4 linked regions of the Homo sapiens genome follow. The protein of the gene in region 1 interacts with the protein of each later gene in a biochemical or structural test. Each region holds a gene or a part of one and is shown on either strand. Other genes may lie near its edges. The genes, in order: NOP58, OGT, CSNK2A1 and ANXA1.

Region 1 (5,579 bases):
ACCCCTGTAATCCCAACTCTTTGGGAGACCAGGAGTTTGAGACTAGCCTGAGCAACATAGCAAGAAATATGTCTCTCTCTGTGTTTTTTTGTTTGTTTTGTTTTTGTTTTGTTTTTTTTGAGGCAGATTCTCACTCTGTCGCCCAGACTGGAGTGCAGTGGCGTGATCTCTGCTCACTGCAGCCCCTGCCTCCCAGGCTCAAGTGATTTTCTTGCCTCAGCCTCCGAGTAGCTAGGATTACAAGCGTGCACCACTACTGCCCAACTAATTTTTGTATTTTTAGTAGAGACGGGCTTTCACCATGTTGGCCTGGCTGATCTTGAACTCCTGACCTCAAATGATCCATCCGCCTTGGCCTTCCAAAGTGCTGGGATTATAGGCATGAGCCACCACACCCGGCATTTTTTTTTTTTTTTTTTTTTTTTTGAGTCAGGGTCTCACTCTGTTGCTCAGGCTGGGGTGCAGTGGTGCGATCTTGGCTCACTGCAACCTGGACATCCTGGACTCAAACAATGCCACCTCAGCCTCCCAAGTAGCTGGGACTGCAAGTGTGCGCCACCATCCCTGGCTGATTTTTTAACTTTTTGTAGAGACGGGGTTTTGCCATGCTGCCCAGGCTGGAACTCCCAGGCTCAAGTGATCCACTTGCCTTAGCCTCCCAAAGTGCCGCGACTGCAGGGGTGAGCCACCATGCCCAGTCTTCTCCCTATTTTTAATTGCATGTTAACCCTATCATATTTCATTAGAAGTCCCTTAGAATAGGCATTATTGCTATGTTGTGATACATCTGTTCATGAAAAGCTTAATACTTTGGAATTGCACTACAGTTAACAGGGTTGTGAAGAAAATAATGGTAGGTAGTTGCTCAAAACCTGTGCAACTTTGTAATCAGTACTGTCAAATAGTAATCCTAATAAAATTATTACCACAGTTCAAAAGACATTTTAAGCTAATATTAAAAGAAACACTACAGGCTGGGCACGGTGGCTCACGCCTGTAATCCCAACACTTTGGGAGGCCAAGGCAGGCAGATCACAAGGTCAGGAGATCGAGACCACGGTGAAACCTCGTCTCTACTAAAAATACAAAAAATTAGCCGGGCACAGTGGCGGGCGCCTGTAGTCCCAGCTACTTGGGAGGCTGAGGCAGGAGAATGGCGTGAACCCGGGAGGCAGAGCTTGCAGTGAGTGGAGATCGCTCCACTGCAGTCCAGCCTGGGTGACAGAGTGAGACTCCATCTCAAAAAAAAAAAAAAAAAAGGGAGAAAGAAACACTATAGGCCAGGCGCAGTGGCTCACGCCTGTAATACATCCCAGCACTTTGCGAGGCTGAGGCAGGTGAATCATGAGGTCAGGAGATCGAGACCATCCTGGTTAACACAGTGAAACCCCGTCTCTACTAAAAATACAAAAAAATTAGCCAGGCATGGTGGCGGGCGCCTGTAGTCCCAGCTACTCGGGAGGCTGAGGCAGGAGAATGGCGTGAACCCGGGAGGTGGAGCTTGCAGTGAGTGGAGATTGCTCCACTGCACTCCAGCCTGGGTGACAGAGTAAGACTCCGTCTCAAAACAAAACAAAAAAGAAACACTACAATTTAAAAAGGTCTATTTTAAAATTAAAAGGTGGGCATAGATTGAAAGGGTTGAAGCTGCTAAGCTAGAGTTAAGAGCAAAAATGCACAAAGGTTAGGGAGAGCTTTGTAATAAGCATTTCTAAGAGAGAACAAATAGTGAAACTGAGTCAAAAATCCAAACCTGGGTAAATCTGCATTGTGTATAGCAGTGGTTCCCTATCAAGGGCAATCAGATGTCCCCCCAGTAGGCATTTGTCTATGTCCATAGACATTTTTGGTTGTCACAATTGGAGGTGGGTTGGGGTCTGCCATGAGTATCTGGTGGATAAAAGTTAGGGATACTGCTAAAGGTCCTATAATGCACAGGGCAGCCTGTACAACAAGGAATTAGGCCCAAAATATTAATTGTGCTGAGATGAAAAAACATTTTTATACAGACAATATTGTTACTCCACAGCTTTCTGTTTTCAGATGTTAAGAGTCCTGCAAAGTTCCTAACTGGTAGTATAAAGCTTAATATGTGCTATTAAAAATTGCATGAACCAATATGGCTTTTTTTTTTTTTTTTTTTTTGAGGCGGAGTCTTGCTTTGTTGCCCAGGCTGGAGTACAGTGGCACGTGATCTCGGCTCACTGCAACCTCTGCCTCCCCGGTTCAAGCGATTCTCCTGCCTCAGCCTCCAGAGTAGCTGAGATTCAGGCGTGCCCCACCATGCCTGGCTAATTTTTATATTTTTAGTAGAGACAGGGTTTCGCCATGTTGGCCAGGTTGGTCTCGAACTCCTAACAGGTGATCTGCCCACCTCGGCCTCCCAAAGTGCTAGGATTACAAGCGTGAGCCACCACGCCCAGTCCAATATGACTTTTGTATTACACAGCTTATCCTATTTGTCATTCATACATAAACTCATTCATGTTACAGAAATAAAGGTCGTAGCAGCACATATAGTTTTTTTTTTTAATGTGTATTTTCTGTTCTCGTATGGTGCATTTCTACTTAGCTGATTTTTCTTCTTAGAAAAACCAATTACAGCTCTGACTACAGGCTGATTTGAGTAAAAACAAAAACAAAAAAAAACTTTAAGGTGTTAATTTAAATGCTTTTCCTAGATGCTATCTTGCTAATTTATTTTCCCCTTTCTTCCCAGCCTGTCTCGATATAGATTGAAGTTTAGCGCTGATAAAGTAGACACAATGATTGTTCAGGCAATTTGTAAGTATAGTACATGCAAAGTCCGATTTGTTGCTCTGTCCTTCATGCGTTTTCATACTGTTGAAACTATCTTTTATGATTCTGTCTGTTGAGAAAGAGAAAGGAGGCCAGGTGTGGTGGCTCAAGCCTTTAATCCCAGCACTTGGGAGGCTGAGGCAGGCGGATCACCTGAGGTCAGGAGTTCAAGACCAGCTTGGCCAACATGACAAAACTCTGTCTTTACTAAAAATACAAAAAAAATTAAATGTGCATGGTGGCGTGTACCTATAATCCCAGCTACTCAGGAGGCTGAGGCAGGATAATTGCTTGAACCCAGGAGGCGGAGGTTGACTATTTGGAGATTATATGAATCACAGAATTAACATTACGTTAATTAATTCATTTGTATTTTTCCATGAAAATGTTAAAAACATAAGTGCAATCTTTGTAGTTGTGTATTCTGCTGTGTCATTAAATGGTTTTTAGAAAGCTCAAAAGCTGCCAGGCACAGTGGCTCATGCCTGTAATCCCAGCACTTTGAGAGGCTGAGGCGGGAGGATCACCTGAGGTCGGGAATTTGAGACCAGCCTGACCAACATGGAGAAATCCCGTCTCTACTAAAAATACAAAATTAACCAGGCATGGTGGTGCATGCCTGTAATCTCAGCTACTCGGGAGGCTGAGGCAGGAGAATCACTTGAACCCTGGAGGCAGAGGTTGTAGTGAGTTGATCGTGCCATTGCACTCCAGCCTGGGCAACAAGAGCAAATCTCCATCTCACTAAAAAAAAAAAAAAAAAATCAAAATCTTAATCGTTTTTCTATTTTAGAAATGCATTCGGCCGTGGCTCACGCCTGTAATCCCAACACTTTGGGAGGCAGAGGCTGGTGGATCACCTGAGGTCAGGAGTTCGAGATCAGGCCAACATGGTGAAACCCGATCTTTAGTAAAAAATAAAAAAATTATCTGAGCATGATGGTAGGCGCCTGTAATCTCAGCTATTCAGGAGGCTGAGGCAGGAGAATCACTTGAACCTGAGAGGCGGAGGTTGCAGTGGGCCGAGATCGCACCATTTCACTCTAGCTTGGACAACATGAGCAACACTCCGTCTCAAAAAAAAAAACAAAGTATTCGGCTGGGCGCAGTGGCTCACACCTGTAATCCTAGCACATTGGGAGGCCAAGGCGGGTGAATTGCCTGAGCTCGGGAGTTTGAGAGCAGCCTGGCTAACATGGCGAAACCCTGTCTTTACTAAAAATACAAAAAAGTAGCCAGTCGAGGTGGCGTGTGCCTATAGTCCCAGCCACTTAGGAGGCTGAGGAAGGAGAATCACTTGAACCCAGGAAGCAGAGGTTGCAGTGAGCTGAGATCGCACCACTGCACTCCATCCTGGGTGATGGAGTTAGACTCTGTCTCCAAAAAAAGAAAAAAAAAAGCGCTCAACCAGCGATTCCTTTCCTAGATTTATACCCAAAAGAATTAAAAACAGAACTGAGTTGCTTGTACACCTATGTTCATAACAGTGTTATTTACAAAACCAAACAGTGGAAACAACCCAGATACCTTTTAACAGATGAATGGATAAACTGCATTGTGGATGCAGCTTGAATGTCCCTAATCTGAAATTCAAAATGCTCTGAAATCTAAAACTTTTTGTGGTACCACACAAATCCACAAGTGGAAAACTCCACACCTGACCACACGTCAAAACTTTGTTTTATGCACAAAATTATTTAAAATATTGTGTAAAATTACCTTCAAGGTTTTGTATATAAGGTATATGTGAAATGTAGATGCATTTCCTATTTAGACTTCGAGTTCCATCCTCAGCCTCATACGTGTTTGCAAATACTCTGAAATACTTCTGGTCCCAAGCATTTTGGGTAACGTACACCCAGCCACTTCACACAGTGGAATGTTAGTCAGCCTTAAAAAGAAATGAAATTCTGATACATATTTCAACATGATAAACCTTGAAAATATGCTAAGTGAAATAGTCACAAAATACTGCATGATTCTGCTTATATGAAGTACCTAAAATAGGTGAACTCAGAGACAGAAGTATAAAGATAACTAGAGGTTGGGGGGAAGGTGGGAATGAGTTACTGTTTAATGGGTACAGAATTTTTCAGTTTCTGATGATAAAATTGCTCTGGCAATAGATCCTGGTAATGGTTGCATAACATCATAAGAATACTTAATGCTACTGAATAGTACACTTGAAAATGGTTGAAGTGTTATTTTTTATTCTTTTTTTTTTAAATTTTTTGCGACGGAATCTTGCTCTGTCACCCAGGCTGGAATGCAGTAGCACGATCTCGGCTCACTACAACCTCCACCTCCTGTGTTCAAGTGATTCTTCTGCCTCAGCCCTCCAGAGTAGCTGGGACTACAGGTGTGCACCACCATGCCTGGCTAATTTTTGTATTTTTAATAGAGATGGGGTTTCACCATGTTGGCCAGGCTGGTCTTGAACTTCTGACTTCGTGATATGCCTGTCTGCTGGGATTACAGACATGAGCCACCGTGCCCAGCCTGAAGTGTTAAATTTTATGTTGTGTATGTTTTACCACAATAAATCCCTTTAAGTTTTGTTTGTTTGTTTTTAATCTACTACAGCCTTGTTAGATGACTTGGATAAAGAACTAAACAACTACATTATGCGATGTAGAGAATGGTATGGCTGGCATTTCCCTGAATTAGGAAAAATTATTTCAGATAATTTAACATACTGCAAGTGTTTACAGAAAGTTGGTGAGTAATTTGTTCATCCTTTAAGGCATTGAAAGTAAATGAATTTGATTGCATCCTAAAAC
Region 2 (5,579 bases), on another chromosome or scaffold:
AATCTTGGGTCTTTATTTAAAATGTTTGATGACCCCTTTAACTATTTTGGCTGTTGTCAAATGACAAACATCTTGTTTATCAGCTGTTTTAAAAATAGCACTTTGACTTTTTGGTTTTTCCCTTAGGCTCGTTTCTACTTGTCCTTTTAAAGAATTAAATTCTGAAATATACAAAAATTGATATAATTTAAAGAATTAACACATCTGGTGTCCTCACTGAGGTTAAGATTGATAGATTGTTACCAGTACTCCACCTCAACAAATCCAACCTGAAATATGGCACAAAATATTACGTTTCCCAATATGTTATTCTGATATTATTAAGTCTTTGTGACCTTGCAAATCACACGTTTAATATTTTGTTTCTGTATGTTAACTAAGGTATAAGGAATAATGTTCAGTGAATCCTTAGATGCTACCTATGATTTATAATTTAAAAGTACAAAGTATTTTTGGTCATAAAATGTAATCTCATATGGAAGTAAATATTCCTTTCTAGTTTGGGAAAGAAAGTATTAATGGGTGAATTCTAAAAATGCCAATTCTGCACTTGATGTTAACTTGAAGATATACATAACGTGCAGAACACTCTAGTGCTTTACATAGTTTCAAGCATTTCCATTTTTAAGTTAAATATACCATATTTTTACATTTTTTTGGTTTACATTTCTAACTTTTTGTTTTCCCCCCTCCTTCCCTCAAATGTTTTGATGATTCTCCAGAACCAACGAAACGTATGCTTTCCTTCCAAGGGTTAGCTGAGTTGGCACATCGAGAATATCAGGCAGGAGATTTTGAGGCAGCTGAGAGACACTGCATGCAGCTCTGGAGACAAGAGCCAGACAATACTGGTGTGCTTTTATTACTTTCATCTATACACTTCCAGTGTCGAAGGCTGGACAGGTAGGAGATGTTGGGGTACCTGCTCGTGATTGCTGCCTCTGGGTGCTGAGCTTGAAAAATGATACTTAAATATTTGAACTTGAAATTTTTCCAGTACCGGGTTTCAACTGAGCCGCCAACGCACATCTGCTCTCTTGCCCACTTGTGACATGCCCAGCTGCCAGTTTTTCTCCTTCCTTTTGTGGTGGTGGTTATATTATCAGTATGACTAGGGACCTTTTCTAGATTTTTCTATCTGGGTCTGCTGCTTTCTAGACTCTGTTCAGGTAATAAATTATTATCAATGTATATCTGAGCATCCAGTCTCCCTTTCATGAGACCTGTCAGTTTGAGGGACTGAAATGCTCAGAAATGATGGTTATGTATGCTGTGGCAGGAGATGCATACCTGGAGTTTCATTAAGTTGTTATGGTGTGTTGCTTTTAGTTAATCAGTTGAATTAATCAAAAGGGAAGAATTTGTGTTCCTGTCCTTTTAATAATTGTTATTCTGGCATATTTAGACACTTAAAGATGTGCATCATTAAATCTTAAATGGAAAATGAGACTCGTGCACATAGCTTTCCATTTTTTATCTTAATGATCATGATTTCCAATGTGGTGGGTTTTTTTTTTTTTTTTTTTTTTTGAGACGGAGTTTCGCTCTTGTTGCCTAGGCTGGAGTGCAGCGGCGCCATCTCGGCTCACTGCAACTCTGCCTCCTGGGTTCAAGCGATTCTTCTGCCTCAGCCTCCTGAGTAGCTGGGATTACAGGCATGTGCCACCACGCCCAGCTAATTTTTGTATTTTTAGTAGAAACGGGGTTTCTCCATGTTGGTCAGGCTGGTCTCAAACTCCCGACCTCAGGTGATCTGCTCGCATTGGCTTCCCAAAGTGCTGGGATTACAGACATCAGCCACCGCGCCCGGCCAATGTGGTAGTTTTGTAACAAGACTCTAGTTAGAATTTTTTTCTTTTTTTTGAGGTGGAGTTTTGCTCTTGTCACCCAGGCTGGAGTGCAGTGGCGCAATCTCAGCTCACTGCAACCTCCGCCTCCCGGGTTCAAGCGATTCTCCTGCCTCAGCCTCCTGAGTAGTTGAGATTACAGGCGCCTGCCATCATGCGTGGCTAAATTTTTGTATTTTTAGTGGAGACGGGGTTTCACCATATTGGCCAGGCTGGTCTCGAACACCTGACCTCAGGTGATCCTCCCGCCTCAGCCTCCCAAAGTGCTGGGATTACAGGCGTGAGCCACTGCGCCCAGCCAATAATTTTATTTAATAAGAAAAAGCTTTTCATTTTGAAATCTAGAATACCTCCACTTTTGAAAATCTTTGATTTCCCAAATTTTTCTTGCTATGCACTAGTTAAAAGATAAGGTATTATATAATGAGCAATAGCACAGATCTCAAACTGTTTGAGTTGCATATGGGCCATACCTTCTTTTCTGTAACGTGCATACCCATGCATTAACACTTGTCGCCTTTTCCAGATCTGCTCACTTTAGCACTCTGGCAATTAAACAGAACCCCCTTCTGGCAGAAGCTTATTCGAATTTGGGGAATGTGTACAAGGAAAGAGGGCAGTTGCAGGAGGCAATTGAGCATTATCGACATGCATTGCGTCTCAAACCTGATTTCATCGATGGTTATATTAACCTGGCAGCCGCCTTGGTAGCAGCGGGTGACATGGAAGGGGCAGTACAAGCTTACGTCTCTGCTCTTCAGTACAATCCTGTGAGTAAAATTTTAATGGTTACTTTCCCTTCCTAGAAACCCAGAAAGAAACATAGTGTGATATTTCAGACACTAAAGTAGGTTTTCACATGGAATAAAGTCAAAAGTTTAGAAATGCGTATGTACTTAAAATGGTGAAATTGCTTTTAGCTGGTCTGCGTTATGCTAAAATATTTGTTTTATTTAGCAAGTTATATTAAAAAGCATAAAAATTCTTATTGCAAGAAACTACATCAATTTTAAAATAACACGTATAAAGTACAGAGCACATGACTTTTTTCTGTTGTGATTAACTTTGGATAAATTCTGATAAGTGTTTGCAAGTTAATTGATTTTCAAGGAATGGTGGATAATGGGTCTTAATCTGTAAAATCTGTAATATAAAATAGTTTGAAACAAGATGCCACTATATGGAATGATGTGAAAATTAGGCTACAAAATTTCTTCCTCAATATCCTATTCTCTTCTCTTTCAATGTAATTAGAAGTCATAGAATTTAGATGATACTACTTATACTGGGCTTTTGATTAGTTTAAAAATTTTTTTTGTCTAAGTTGCAGATGTGTTCTGGGAACAAGTAAGGCTCAGCTGGCAGACCTTAAATTCATACTGTGTTTAGGATCTCCGAAAGATACAAAAACATAAGACTTTCCCTCAGAACTTATGATGTAGTTAGAGAAAGTAGATGTAAACTTAAGAGGTAAATGATAGTGGGGTTATAGAAATCTAGAAAAAGTTCCCAAGTTACATTGTCAACATTCAGTTTTGTAACCAACCTGGAAATGGCTAATAGTTTATTTTAGCTACCGTTTACTGAAAGTCTGTGTGGTCAGACACTCTACTGACAGCTTTAAATGATTGGTCTTAGTTAATCCTCACAATAATTCTTCAAAATAGATGATATTATTTCTGATTTTTATCAATTAAAAAAAAACCATGGACTCAGGGTTATGTGGCTTTCATGGGGACAAAGCTAGTAATGAAGTATTAATAGATATTAAAACCTGAGTCTGAATATCCTCAAAGCAAATGTTGAAGTGAAAAGAAATAAAAGTGGGATGATGTGCCCAGAGGGCACTCACCCATCAAAGCAGCCCTTGAGCACAGTTAAAAAACCATTGATCATATTTTGCTGTCCCTTATTTTTTGGTTAGGAAACTGAAACTAAATTTAGTAGTTTGTTCAAAGATCCGAAGTCACTTCTCATGATGATATCTATTAACAATTTTTGTAGTTAATTTTGAGAGTTTAAACGTGTCCTTTTTAGAAAATCCATTGCTTTAAAAAACATTTTTTTTTAAGAGATGGAGTCTTGCTATGTTGCCCAGGCTGTACTCATACTCCTGGGCTCAAGCAGTCCTCCTGCCTCAGCCTCCAGAGTAGCTGGGACTATAGGTGTGTGCCACCACACCCAGCTTCTAAATTTATTGGTTTTTGAATGGATACAGTGAATACCTCCAGTTAGCACTCTTGGAGGTAGCAAATGAAACTAATTTCTTGTCTATCTTTTCTGAGACACTCAGTGTATATATATGTACATTTGAGTGACTTTTTGTAAGTTTTATTGCAATACTAATCTAGCTAGTTACCCACATAAAGTTTTAGGGAGCCTGGTATGTACTGCCACTGGGCCTTGGACCCCATTTTTCCCAGGGCTCAGGGCTCACCTCTGTACCCAGTTGTCACAGTAAGTTCTTTACCTTTATTAATCAGGTTGATTCTACTCTTATTGATAGTGTACCCTCTTACACAGCTGTGGTTCTTGCCATCTTTAACTCTAATGCCCTTGGCTCAGGTTTCCAGTTGCCTATGTGTGTAGCAGAGCAGTCATTGCTACTGATAGTGTACCCAAGCAGTAGGACTATGCTGAGAAGGAAAACTAAAGTGAGAGATGGAACCTTGCTATTTAATATCTAACCTGCTGTTAGCAGGAAGCTTATTGTTGTACCCTACCAAGGAAGTGAGATAGTACTAAAATAAATCATGGGATTACCTCTTGAATGCATTGAATGGCCATGTGTTGTCATCTGGTTCTATGTTTCTTCTAGTGGAAGGTGCTGCTTTACTTATTTATTACTGTTTTTACCAATAAGAATGAAAATGGGATTGTGCAAGTTCCCTTGATTTCAACTAAACATGCCATAGTGATCATATTTTAATTTATTTCAGGATATCTAAAGTCTTAACTAGATTTAAACTTACTGTCAAATGCCCGTTGTCAGTTCAGTACTGGTAGAACCTTGCGTCTGTTCCTTATGTTCTTGTTGACAGTGCTTAAATGCATCATTAGTACATTGTGTACCTGAATCATAGATGTAGTTGGCATTCTATGAAAAATGGTTAAAGAAACTCAGGTTATTTTGGTTTTGCAGCAGTGAAAGAGTAGAATGTTAAGGTGGTATCTTTGGTAACCTTGGTAACTGTTTTCAACAGTGTTTATCTTTTTAAGTTAATAGATATGTCAATTTAGAAGTTGTTCTCTGTGACTTGATTATAGAAATTATCTTTGAGACAGCTATCTCATTTTTTTCATTCTGAATTATCTTCTATAATTATAATGTTGGGTGTTTTCATAATTTTGGTAAGATTTTAGTCTGTCATTTTTTTTTTTTTTTTGGAGACGGAGTTTTGCCCTTGTCACCCAGGCTGGAGTGCAGTGGCGCGATCTCGGCTCACTGCAACCTCTGCCTCCTGGGTTCAAACGATTCTTCTGCCTCAGCCTCCGAAGTAGCTGGGATCACAGGTGCCCACCACCATGCCTGGCTAATTTTTTGTATTTTTACAAAAACAGGCTTTCACCATGTTGGCCAGGCTTGTCTTGAACTCCTGGCCTCAACAGATCCGCCTGCTTCAGCCTCCCAAAGTGCTGGGATTACAGGCGTGAACCACTGTGCCTGGCAGTCTGTTGTATTTGAAGGTGTTATTGCAGATAGCACCTTGCAGTGACAGCACATGTTCTTTG
Region 3 (5,579 bases), on another chromosome or scaffold:
TTTGGCTTGTATGACAGGATGAGTATCACCTTTAACCGAACAGGGGGAGACTGAGTGGAGGTGCTTTTGCAGGGAGTAATCAAAGGTTTAGTTTTGAGATACAGGCAGTAAACTTAGTGCCAGAGCAGTCCGATGTTTTTCCTCAGGGCCTACTGCTGGCACTTCAGATCATGGTCATGCTATGCACAGTGGGCAGATAAGCTTGCCTCTTACCCCTTTTTCCATGTTTAGGATGCATTTTGGTAAAAGCTGTATTGTATGACTTTTCTGTTATTTCATCTATCCAGCAAATATTTATTCATTTTTCTCCTGTATACCAGGCATTATGTTGAATTCTGAAAATTACAAAGGTGAATAAAACAGTCCCTACCCCTAAGGAGCTTGTCGTCCATATTGAAAAAGAAAGGTAGAAAACATAAAGAGTTTAGGTTCTGTTAAAGAAATATATCTAAAATTCAGGGGGCTGAAGGCAATGATCAGACTTCATTGAGAAGCTGACTTAAATATTCCAAAAGTTAAGGAAATGCTTACCAATAGGATTATAGGCTGGGTAGTAGGGACATTTTAGTCATTGAGCAGTTTAAGAAATTTGTAAAAGCACAGGTGAGATTGTGTCTTCCAGGAACAAAATCATGGAGAAAGAGGTTTGTCAAGCTAAGAAGTTTTATTTTCATTCTAAAGGCTATAAGTAGTCAGTGGAGGGGTTTCAGTAAAGAGTGACGTGTCTGGTATATTTTATCAAGAGTATGCTAATGGCACAGTGTGGGTAGCTTAGAGAAAGATAAGATTGCTCATGGTTTATTCTTTTTCAGCTACGACTAATAGACTGGGGTTTGGCTGAGTTTTATCATCCTGGCCAAGAATATAATGTCCGAGTTGCTTCCCGATACTTCAAAGGTCCTGAGCTACTTGTAGACTATCAGGTAAGAACAGAAGGGCAGGCACAGTTTTGATCCTGTGTTTATTTCGCACATAATTTACCAAAAAAAAAAAAGTATCATTTTGTGCATTTAGGTAGGCCACTTAATGCACATTCACAGCTGTCCTTTTTATATGAAATGTAAAATATAAATCACCTTAATTCATGTACCATGACTTACATTACTTTTATTGTCATAATGTCGGTAGAATATGAATAGGTTTGCATTTGATCCTGACTTGAGGGAAAGTAGCCAAAGATATGTTCTATAATCAGCAGTTCCAGAACTGTTTTGAATTGTAAGCTGTTTTGTTTTTGTTTTTGTTTTTGTTTTGAGACGGAGTCTCACTCTGTCGCCCAGGCTGCAGTGCAGTGGCATGATCTCGGCTCACTGCAAGCTCCGCCTCCCAGGTTCACACCTTTCTCCTGCCTCAGCCTCCCAAGTAGCTGGGACTACAGGCACCCACCACCACCCCAGCTAATTTTTCTTGTATTTTTAGTAGAGACTGGGTTTCACTGTGTTAGCCAGGATGGTCTCGATCTCCTGCCCTCGTGAGCCACCACGCCCGGCCTTTTGTTTGTTTTCTGAGGCAGGGTTTTGCTCTGTTGCCCAGGCTGGAGTGCAATGCCATGATCATAGCTGACTGCAGCCCCGAACTTCTGGGCTCAAGTGATCCTTCCAGCTTAGCCTCCTGAGTAGCTGGGACTACAGGCGTGCACTACCACACCCAGCTAATTTTTAATTTTTTTGTGTGTAGAGAGAAAGTCTCACTATGTTGCCCAGGCTGATCTCAAACTCCTGGGCACAACCCATCCTCACACCTTGGCTCCCCAAAGTGCTGAGATTACAGGCATGAGCCACCATGCCCATCCTGTAACTAAGTTTAACCAATCTTCAGAGTAAATTCAAGAATGTTTTCTTGTTCTTCTGAATTGTATACTAAATAAAAAGGTCTTCTCCCCAGCTCCCCCAAAAAGCCTTCTTTCTCCTCACAGAAAAAGGAGAAAGGAACCAAATTAATAATAGATTTGCCAAGTGTTTAAAAATCTGAAGTTTTCTTGGGAGTATCTTTTATGCCCAGTCTTTCCAGGTTATTATCAGTTGATTTTAAAAGTTTCAGACTTTTTGTTCTTGTAGGAATTTCTTTCTTGGGGTCTTAAGGCTATAGCCCTGAGTTCAAAAAGCATTTTATGCATAAAAATAGTTTTTACAGTATTACTAATAATTGTGAAAAACAGAACACTGTCCTATTATAGGAAAATTAAAGATTGAATTCTGAAACATTTATGTAATAAAATACTAATGATACACATTAGATGGTCTCCATGGGCTAACAATTTGGAGGTTTTTTTTTTTTTTTTTTCATGTAAGTGAAGAAAACAATTCAAAATAGTATGTATATTAGCTGAGCATAGTGGTGTATGCCTGTAATCCTACCTACTCAGGAGGCCTAAGCCCAGGAGTTGGAGGCTGCAGTGAGCTATGATCACGCCACTACACTCCAGCCTGGGCAACAGAGCAAGACCCTGTGTCTTTAAAAAAAAAAAAAAAAGAGCCAGGCACAGTGGCTCACGCCTATAATCCCAGCACTTGGAAAGGCCAAGGCAAGTGGATCACAAGGTCAGGAGCTCAAGACCAGCCTGGCCAAGATGGTGAAACCCTGTCTCTACTAAAAATACAAAAAAATTAGCCAGGCGCGGTGGTGGGCGCTTGTAATCCCAGCTACTCAGGAGGCTGAGGCAGAGAATTGCTTGAACCTGGGAAGCTGAGTTGCAATGAGCCAAGATCACACCCCTGCAGCCTGGGCGACAGAGCAAGACTCTGTCTCAAAAAAAAAAAAAAAAAGTAAAAATTGTTTTAAAACCGAGTGAAAGATGCATAAAAGAAAAAACTAAAAAAAAAACTAAAAAAAAAAAAAAAAGAAAAAACTAGCCAGGCACGGTGGGTCATGCCTGTAATCCTAGCACTTTGGGAACCTGAGGCGAGCAGATCATGAGGTCAGGAGTTTGAGACCACTGGCCAACGTAGTGAAACCCCGTCTCTACTAAAAATACAAAATTAGCCAGGCATGGTGGCACGCGCCTGTAGTCCCAGCTAGTCAGGAGGCTGAGGCAGGAGAATTGCTTGAACCCGGGAGGCGGAGGTTGTGGTGAGCCAAGATTGCGCCACTGCACTCCAGCATGGGCAGCAGAGTGAGACTCTGTCTCCAAAAAAAAAAAAAAGAAAGACTAAAAAGAAATATATGAAGATGTTATTAGTGTTTTGATTTTGAGTCAGTGGAGTGATTTTTTTTTAATTTTAAAAATTAATTTTTTATTTTGAAGTGACAAGCCTGAGGATTCACAGATAATAACAGTGAGTTTACTTTTATGCAGATGTACGATTATAGTTTGGATATGTGGAGTTTGGGTTGTATGCTGGCAAGTATGATCTTTCGGAAGGAGCCATTTTTCCATGGACATGACAATTATGATCAGGTAATATATGTTATACCCATTGAAAAATGTACTGGCCTAATGCAATGATAGCCAGCACTGCCTGTAACTTTCAGTTCACTGTTTATTCAGCCACCCCGATATTGATCCTTAGATTGATGTTTCGGGAGCTACCAGCTTAGCCTTTTGAAATCAGACATTCCCCCCTAGTCTTTGTCATTTGCATTGCTTATTTTATTGTGAAGAATACATATAAATTGTCATCCAGATTTTTAAAATAGGACATTACCTTAGAATTCTCCTAATAAACCCTTATCTCCAATATGGTGTTTTCTCCAATATGTGAGCCCATATGTGGTATTTCTGTGATCCTTTTGGCTCTTTATATGGGTTGAGTTACAGATGTTTCTTAAACTAACTCCACTTCCCCCTTGAAGATCAAAGGGCTCTTTCATTCACAAGAACCTGGAATGATTCTAGGACCTTGTGGAAGGTACCATTGTCTTGTTCCCTTTGAGCACCATGTCCAATTTTAATGAGTCAAAGAATACAACCTGAATTCCATTAAAGTCAATAACTCTGTATCAAGTGCATGCAGTACTGAGGAATACAGAAAAAAGAAAGAATAGTTTTCTTCCCCTCAGATAGTTCATAGCTGATCTTGTAAGGGAGTCAAACATACAACAAAATAGGTTACAGTCATAACTTCAGAGTAGAAATGTGGACAAGGCACAAAAGGCAGTAGTGGTGAGTAGTTTGAGTGTGCAATGGGAGCTTCCCAAAAGAAGTGACATCTTCAATTGGGTTTTGAGGGGAGAAAAATAAGGGTTCACCAGGGTGACATTTCAAGAGGAAGAAACCAGTTTATAAAGTAGTTTGCTTTTTCTAACACTATCACATTGAGTTGAAGTCTAAACTGTTAGGAGGTAGCATTCATACCTGTAGACATGATGACCCGTTTATGTAAATTCAATCATTGTTAATTGTTGATTTGTTAATATAATATGCTTGTGATATGGGTTTTTGTCTTTCTTTAATACTAGTTGGTGAGGATAGCCAAGGTTCTGGGGACAGAAGATTTATATGACTATATTGACAAATACAACATTGAATTAGATCCACGTTTCAATGATATCTTGGGCAGGTAAGTCATGAAACAAAATATGTGCATCTGTGGCTTAAGCACTTTGAGAGTGAACTGGCACTTAGGATCTTCAAAATAGTTATGTTTTCTTTGCCAGCACTGTCAGGATGTCAGTGGTCCAGTGCCACAGGATGCTGCATTGAGCAGGCCTCTGATAAAGGCATTGGATTGAATGGCCCTTTATTCAAATTAACTTACAGGAGTCTGATGGAGGGGTTATAGCTAGAGGATTCCTACAAAATGAATGTAGATTCTAGTAGAAGGGTTACAGTTGAGGCAAAAATCAAAATTTACCTTGCTTCTTTAAGTGAAAAACCTCTCTCCAAGAGAAAGAAATTGAAGTAGAAAATGCATGCTTTAAGACTGATGTGCAGGCTGGGCACGGTGGCTCATATCTGTAATCCCAGAACTTTAGGAGGATCACTTGAGCCCAGGAGTTGGAGACCAGCCTGGACAACATAATGAGACCCTCGACTCCATGCATGGTGATGTGTGGCAGTAGTCCAGACTACTAGGAAGCTGAGGCAGGAGCTTCCCTTGAGCCCAGGAGGGAATGCTACAGAGAGCAATGAACATGTGGCTGCGCTCCAGTCTGGGCAACAGAGTGAGACCCTGTCTCCAAAAAAAAAAAAAAAAAGGCTATATGCAGACAACCGACTCTTAACAGTAGTGACTAGATATAGTACTTATACACTTAACCACTCAACAGGAGGAGATGGACTTTCCTGATGCAAAGGCTTTTGCTGGCCAATTGGCAGAGATGCCAGGAATATGTGTGGGGATGGGAAATAGGCCTGGTGAGCTCAGCCACCTGACCCTCCTTGCTACACAGAAGCGGTCACGTCCTGTCAAGTAACCTGAATTATGTTTCTTAAAATTGAGAGGACTCAGATGTCTTTTTTCACTCTAGCTATGTTGTTTCCAGTCTCCAGTTAGCTTTGTTGTCCCACTCAGTGGCAGAGCGGTGCAAGACTACCCTCTTGAGTTTGGATCCCTCTTTGCTTTTGTCTGGGCTGTTAGCCACTAAGAAAAATGTAGGAATGAAATGTTGGGCTTCTGTGCCCACGTGGCCCATTTCTC
Region 4 (5,579 bases), on another chromosome or scaffold:
AATTGACTGTCTATGGTAATTATGGCAGCTTTGGAATCTCCACATATCAAAATGTTTCTTTATTGTTTGGCACATGTCTATTAAATGCTGTTACCAGGCAACGCTTGAGTTGCTAGGTTGCTGACAAGGGAGATGGTGTCCCAATCCGCATCAAGCTTGCGTTTTAATAGAAAATGTTCCTCTAGGATAAATGGCCACATACGATTATAATGGAAACCTCAATTCAGAGCATTGAATTTTTAAAAATTTCTGAAAAACACTTTTCTATTATTCTGGAATGTATTTTATAAAAATGTCCCAAGGTCATTTTTTTTGAAAAGAATATATAATAACAAAAAAATCTCCTAACAAAATGTTTTTCATTTGTCCTTGAAAAAGTAAAGAATTAGGTGCTTATAATTCTCTGTTGGAAACCTTAACTTTATCGTTATGAACATAAGAGACTCACTTTATCTCTAGTTAAATTCACAGAATAAAAGACTAGTCTTAGCTTATTTTATCTCTCCAGTGAAGCATCTCATTTAAATGATGTGCTCAACACTGAAAAGAGGGTAATTGCAAGTCTCTTACCATTTTCCTACTCTCATTTCCCTGAGCTGCTGGCTTTTTGGCTTTCCCAATGCAATATATGGCATATAGAAGATCTTTCTGCTTGATTCTCATACCAAGCATGGAGAATACAATAGCTTTTGCATATCATTTTCAGAGGAATTTAATAAAAGAATAAAAATAAGGAAGCTTTTAAACCTCATTTTCTGCAATTCTTATTTAATTACCAATGTTTATGTTAGATCCATGTGTCAGTGGTAATAATGATGATTATTTTTGTTTGATAAAACATAGTTTATAAAAATAAGTGTTTATATATTTTTCATATGGCCAAGATATAGGCCAGTGATAGTTTATTACATTGCCCAGTTTCAAGTTGTTTTAGTCCGTTTGTGTTGCTATAAAGAAATATCTGAGACCAAGTAATGTAAAAAGAAAGGAAATACTGTACAAGTAGTATGGGACCAGCGTCTGCTTTTGATGAGGGCCTCATACTACTTCTACTCATGGCAGAAAGCAGACAGAAGCAGATGTGTGCAGAGAGGGAGAGAGAGAAAAGGAGGTGCCAGGCTCTTTTCAACAGCCAGTTCTTAAAGAAACTATGAATGAGAACTCACTCCGAGCCATTCATGAGGGATCTGCCCCCATCATCCAAACATCTCCCAACAGGCCCCACCTTCAACAGTGGAGAATAAATTGCAACATGAGACTTGGCAGGGCCAAACAAACAATATGAAAACCATAGCACTAGTCAATTATAAATTCAATTATTTTTTCCTATTACAGTATTATTTTATGTAGTTAAGCAGAAGTGTTTACACACACATAAATCATCAAACTGCATTACTTATAAGACATTTATAGTTTTTAAACTAAATAAATAATTTGCATTCAAGCAAGTACCTCATTTTGTTCTTTTAAACAATTATTTTATTCATTCTATTGCTTAAATTCTGCCATGTTGTATTTCAGAATTAATTACTAATGTATACCTATACAATTTATTCTTAACGAAAGCTTTATGACTGTGAGTTTTCAATCACAGTATTATCTAAATTGCTCCCATTGCTTCATATGAAATAAATTCAATGATCCAAAAATTTACCTGCTTTAATTTTTCTCTTCTTATTTAAAAATGATAATATTTTGCAACATGTTCCATAAGTCATTGAACACTGTGGCACTGTGAATTTTCAACCAACTTAGAGATGTCAGATATTCTTATTATTATTCATCACTGGTTTACTATAAAATCTATTTTTCTTTTTTCTCAGAACTGAAGAGAGATCTGGCCAAAGACATAACCTCAGACACATCTGGAGATTTTCGGAACGCTTTGCTTTCTCTTGCTAAGGTACAACTCAGATACTTTAGGAAATGCCTCTTGTTTTATAAAGACTAATTTCTTAGTCCATTTTGTGTTGCTATAAGGGAATATCTGAGGCTAGGTAATTTTTAAAGATAAAAAGGTTTATTTGGCTCAGGATTCTGATGGCTAACAAATTCAAGTTTGGGTATCTATGTCTGGTGAGAGCCTCAGGCTGCTTCCACTCCTGACAGAAGAGGAAAGGGAGCTGGTGTGTGCAGAGACCACATGGCAAGAAAGGAAGCAAGAGAGAGAATGGGGAGGTGCCAGCCTCGTTAACAACCAGCTCTCGTGGTTCTCATGAGCAAGAACTCATTCCCAGTGACGGCATTAATCTCTTCATGAGAGATCAGCCCCAGGACCCAAATACCTCCCTCTAGGCCCCACCTTTAACACTGGGGATCAAATTTCAACATGAGGTTTGGAGGGGAAGAACATCTAAAACCATCGCAAGTAAAATCTTGTATCTGAGCTCCTTCTAGAAATGAGTAATAGAATACCTTTTTCTCAAAAAATATTATTTATCTGAGTTTAAGATAATTAAGTAAATCATGCAATTACATGCTAGAGAAGAGCTTACAATAGAATGGGATTTCTTTCAGGGTGACCGATCTGAGGACTTTGGTGTGAATGAAGACTTGGCTGATTCAGATGCCAGGGTAAGGAAGTGCTTACAAAATACTGCTGCAGTTCATCTTCCTACCTTAAGTGGGGCTACCACATGATCCCCTGTGAAAGCAAATCTAAGATCTTCTGAGAGACCAATGGCTTCTTAATGTTCATTTCCTGAATGAGGCATGTCTTTCTGTAGCCCCCACACACAAAAAAGTAGTCTTTGTAAGTTTTCAATATCTCTCATTATTCGTAAAACCAGAGAGAACTGAAGAAGGACAATACAAATTTGATTTGTCATTCCCAAGAATTGTTTGTTAAAAAAAACTCTGACCTTTCGTTGTACTAGGTATAAGAAGGGGAAATGTAATTTTTTTATTATGTGCAATGGAAAGAGTAAGCATATTTAACGTTATTTTTAACAGAGAACTTTGGAATGGTTTATAGATGTCAATTTATATTGTCAAAATATTACTGCAATGATATAACAAGAGTATAGGATAAATTATAATAATATATGCTTTCTAACATATTGTTTTATTTAGTTTCAGTGACATTGCTGATTATTTATATGCCAAACCACTGGCAACATAAGAAAAATCATATCATTTTAAAGCCTGGAATTTCCATTTAAAACAAACAAACAACTAATATTTGCATTATGCCTTCTCATGGAACAGTATTCTCTAGAGAATTCATTACAGTGCTTCACTAAGGATAGAGATTTCTTTGTGCACCCCCATCCACTTCTGCTATACCAGTACATTATCATGTACATAATAGGCACTCATGAACTTTTTGTTCAACAAATGCATACATATCAGATCAATTTGCTTGAAAAATGCAAAATAATTTTTACATACATTGAAGGTTTTATCATTTTAATAGAAATTGTTCAAGCATATTAAGGAACAAGAGTTAGCATTTGAATAATTGCCCATAATAAAAAATTCTTATTTGCTTTTGACATTTCTGAATTTGCTTTCCATTTTAAGACTATCAGGGTTCTTAATATATATTTATGGAGGTTACATGGATTAGTGTGACCCAAGAGAATGATGGTAGTCAACATTTCAAAGTTAATAAAGACCGCTTGTGACAATAGGGCAGGGATTATATTTTTCATATATAAAAGAAAAAAATCTGTCATTTAGTAAGGTTGATCTATTTGTCTAAGATTATGCAGCTTTGAAATTGCAGAGTCAGAATTTGAATACAGAAATTCTAACATCAAAATGCAAGGTCCAGGTTACGGTTGAATTATTGATTTATAAGTAACATTTGCTGATAATTACTTTGAACAACACAGAGTAAAAAATCTTTAGAGATCCCCTTGGAGTTGTCTTACTATAGAGCATAATCTTAAAGCAATTTAGTTCAGCAAACATTTATTCTGCAAACATATATTCAGACTCTAGTGTTTACAAGGCACCTTGAGAGAAACTGTGGAAGATATTTGACAAACAAAATAAGGTCCCTATCTTTAAAGAACTTGCAATCTTATTGTTGACTACTCTGATTGTATTGGGCACAAAGCGATTGCCTATATAATCTTTGACAAGGTCTAACATTATTGTGCAGATATCATTTCAGCAGATAGTGAAGTGTTTACTTTTGTGTTTCTTGACAGGCCTTGTATGAAGCAGGAGAAAGGAGAAAGGGGACAGACGTAAACGTGTTCAATACCATCCTTACCACCAGAAGCTATCCACAACTTCGCAGAGGTAACAATAAATTTCTTTTTCTGGAATCTGTTTATGGAAGATGCAATTTTCTTTTTTGATGACAAATAAGAGAAAGTAAAAACAGAACCCTTTTTCAATATCACTCCTGTATCAAACAGATACAGTGTTCCTGACCCATTGTTATTTGTCAATTTGTCCAATTTTGTACAGCCGCTACTTTATCATATTTAATACATTTTGTGACTTGGGCATGTGGAACATAATTTTGTTATTTTCACTGCTTTTACTCCCCTAAAAGATTTGGAATATGTGTGGGAAAAGACATGCATAACAGAACAAATGAAATTAGAATGAAGAAAAACAAAAAAAAAAAAACAAAAAACCCTCAGAGCTAAATGAAGAAAGAAATATGTAGGTGCTTTGGAAAAACAACAACAAGACAAAACTCAGAAAAAGTCCTGGCCTTTGAGTGCAAGATTTAGCTCTGGGCCTCTTGGAAGTGAAGGCGATGGAAAAGTTATGACAATTACCAAAGTTCACCATCTTATAATAGTATACTGATTTCTACTGTTAAATGTAAGAGAAATTTAGTGCACAGGTCTTTATATAAGGGAAGATCCATTTGCTGTGGCTCTTAGAACTGCTGTAGGAAGTGCTATAGTTGTCAATCACATGCCGTTTCTAATAACTGTCAACATTTGCAAACATTTCGCCAAAATATATAGGAATACCAAAATGGCCAGGTAAGTTACATTCCTAGGAGAGGATGAAGTATTCACGTTATGATTAATTGGGTATATTGCTTTAAAAGGTGTAGCCAAAGTTGTTATTCTAAAAAATTCTTTGAGTCAGTTGCCTTGATTTTGCTAAAGCTTTCTAAAGAAAAGGATGTTTTGCATGTATCTTAGTTTGAATTTAATATTCAGTGTTTCAGAAATACACCAAGTACAGTAAGCATGACATGAACAAAGTTCTGGACCTGGAGTTGAAAGGTGACATTGAGAAATGCCTCACAGCTATCGGTATGTAGTCCAGCAGTTGAAAGAGTTTTCTAACTAGAAATTGTATTTTCAAAGCTATCCTATACTTAACAAGAACAACAGCAACAAAACCAATAAAAGAAAACAAAAAACAATCAGAAGTAGTGCATCTGTTTCAATTGAAGCAACGTAAAAGATTGGCAAAGTACTATAACCTTAATAACAATAGATATTATTCCCCTTTTCAAAAATAGAGAGAGATAGACTATACTTATTGAGCACCTACTTATATCAAACAATGTACCAGGCTGGGCACACCACAGAGGCAATTCAGAATGGTCACTGAGAGCATGGGATCTGGAATAAATGTAACATCTGGATAAATGT

The links.
Region 2: the proteins of NOP58 (region 1) and OGT form a complex in vitro, tested with the Homo sapiens proteins (one large-scale study listed by BioGRID).
Region 3: of the proteins of NOP58 (region 1) and CSNK2A1, one has a biochemical effect on the other in vitro, tested with the Homo sapiens proteins (2 studies listed by BioGRID and IntAct).
Region 4: the proteins of NOP58 (region 1) and ANXA1 interact in a test that uses a peptide from one of them, tested with the Homo sapiens proteins (one large-scale study listed by BioGRID).

The regions. Positions count from the first base shown.
Region 1 is NC_000002.12:202,284,941-202,290,519, forward strand, and holds part of NOP58 (nucleolar protein 58), read left to right. Parts: intron 1-2,719; coding exon 2,720-2,784; intron 2,785-5,382; coding exon 5,383-5,517; intron 5,518-5,579. UniProt on the Homo sapiens protein: Required for the biogenesis of box C/D snoRNAs such as U3, U8 and U14 snoRNAs. Part of the small subunit (SSU) processome, first precursor of the small eukaryotic ribosomal subunit.
Region 2 is NC_000023.11:71,535,456-71,541,034, forward strand, and holds part of OGT (UDP-N-acetylglucosamine--peptide N-acetylglucosaminyltransferase 110 kDa subunit), read left to right. Parts: intron 1-722; coding exon 723-903; intron 904-2,373; coding exon 2,374-2,617; intron 2,618-5,579. UniProt on the Homo sapiens protein: Catalyzes the transfer of a single N-acetylglucosamine from UDP-GlcNAc to a serine or threonine residue in cytoplasmic and nuclear proteins resulting in their modification with a beta-linked N-acetylglucosamine (O-GlcNAc).
Region 3 is NC_000020.11:487,598-493,176, reverse strand, and holds part of CSNK2A1 (casein kinase II subunit alpha), read left to right. Parts: intron 1-812; coding exon 813-923; intron 924-3,295; coding exon 3,296-3,397; intron 3,398-4,398; coding exon 4,399-4,499; intron 4,500-5,579. UniProt on the Homo sapiens protein: Catalytic subunit of a constitutively active serine/threonine-protein kinase complex that phosphorylates a large number of substrates containing acidic residues C-terminal to the phosphorylated serine or threonine.
Region 4 is NC_000009.12:73,160,959-73,166,537, forward strand, and holds part of ANXA1 (annexin A1), read left to right. Parts: intron 1-1,823; coding exon 1,824-1,903; intron 1,904-2,517; coding exon 2,518-2,574; intron 2,575-4,157; coding exon 4,158-4,251; intron 4,252-5,138; coding exon 5,139-5,234; intron 5,235-5,579. UniProt on the Homo sapiens protein: Plays important roles in the innate immune response as effector of glucocorticoid-mediated responses and regulator of the inflammatory process. Has anti-inflammatory activity.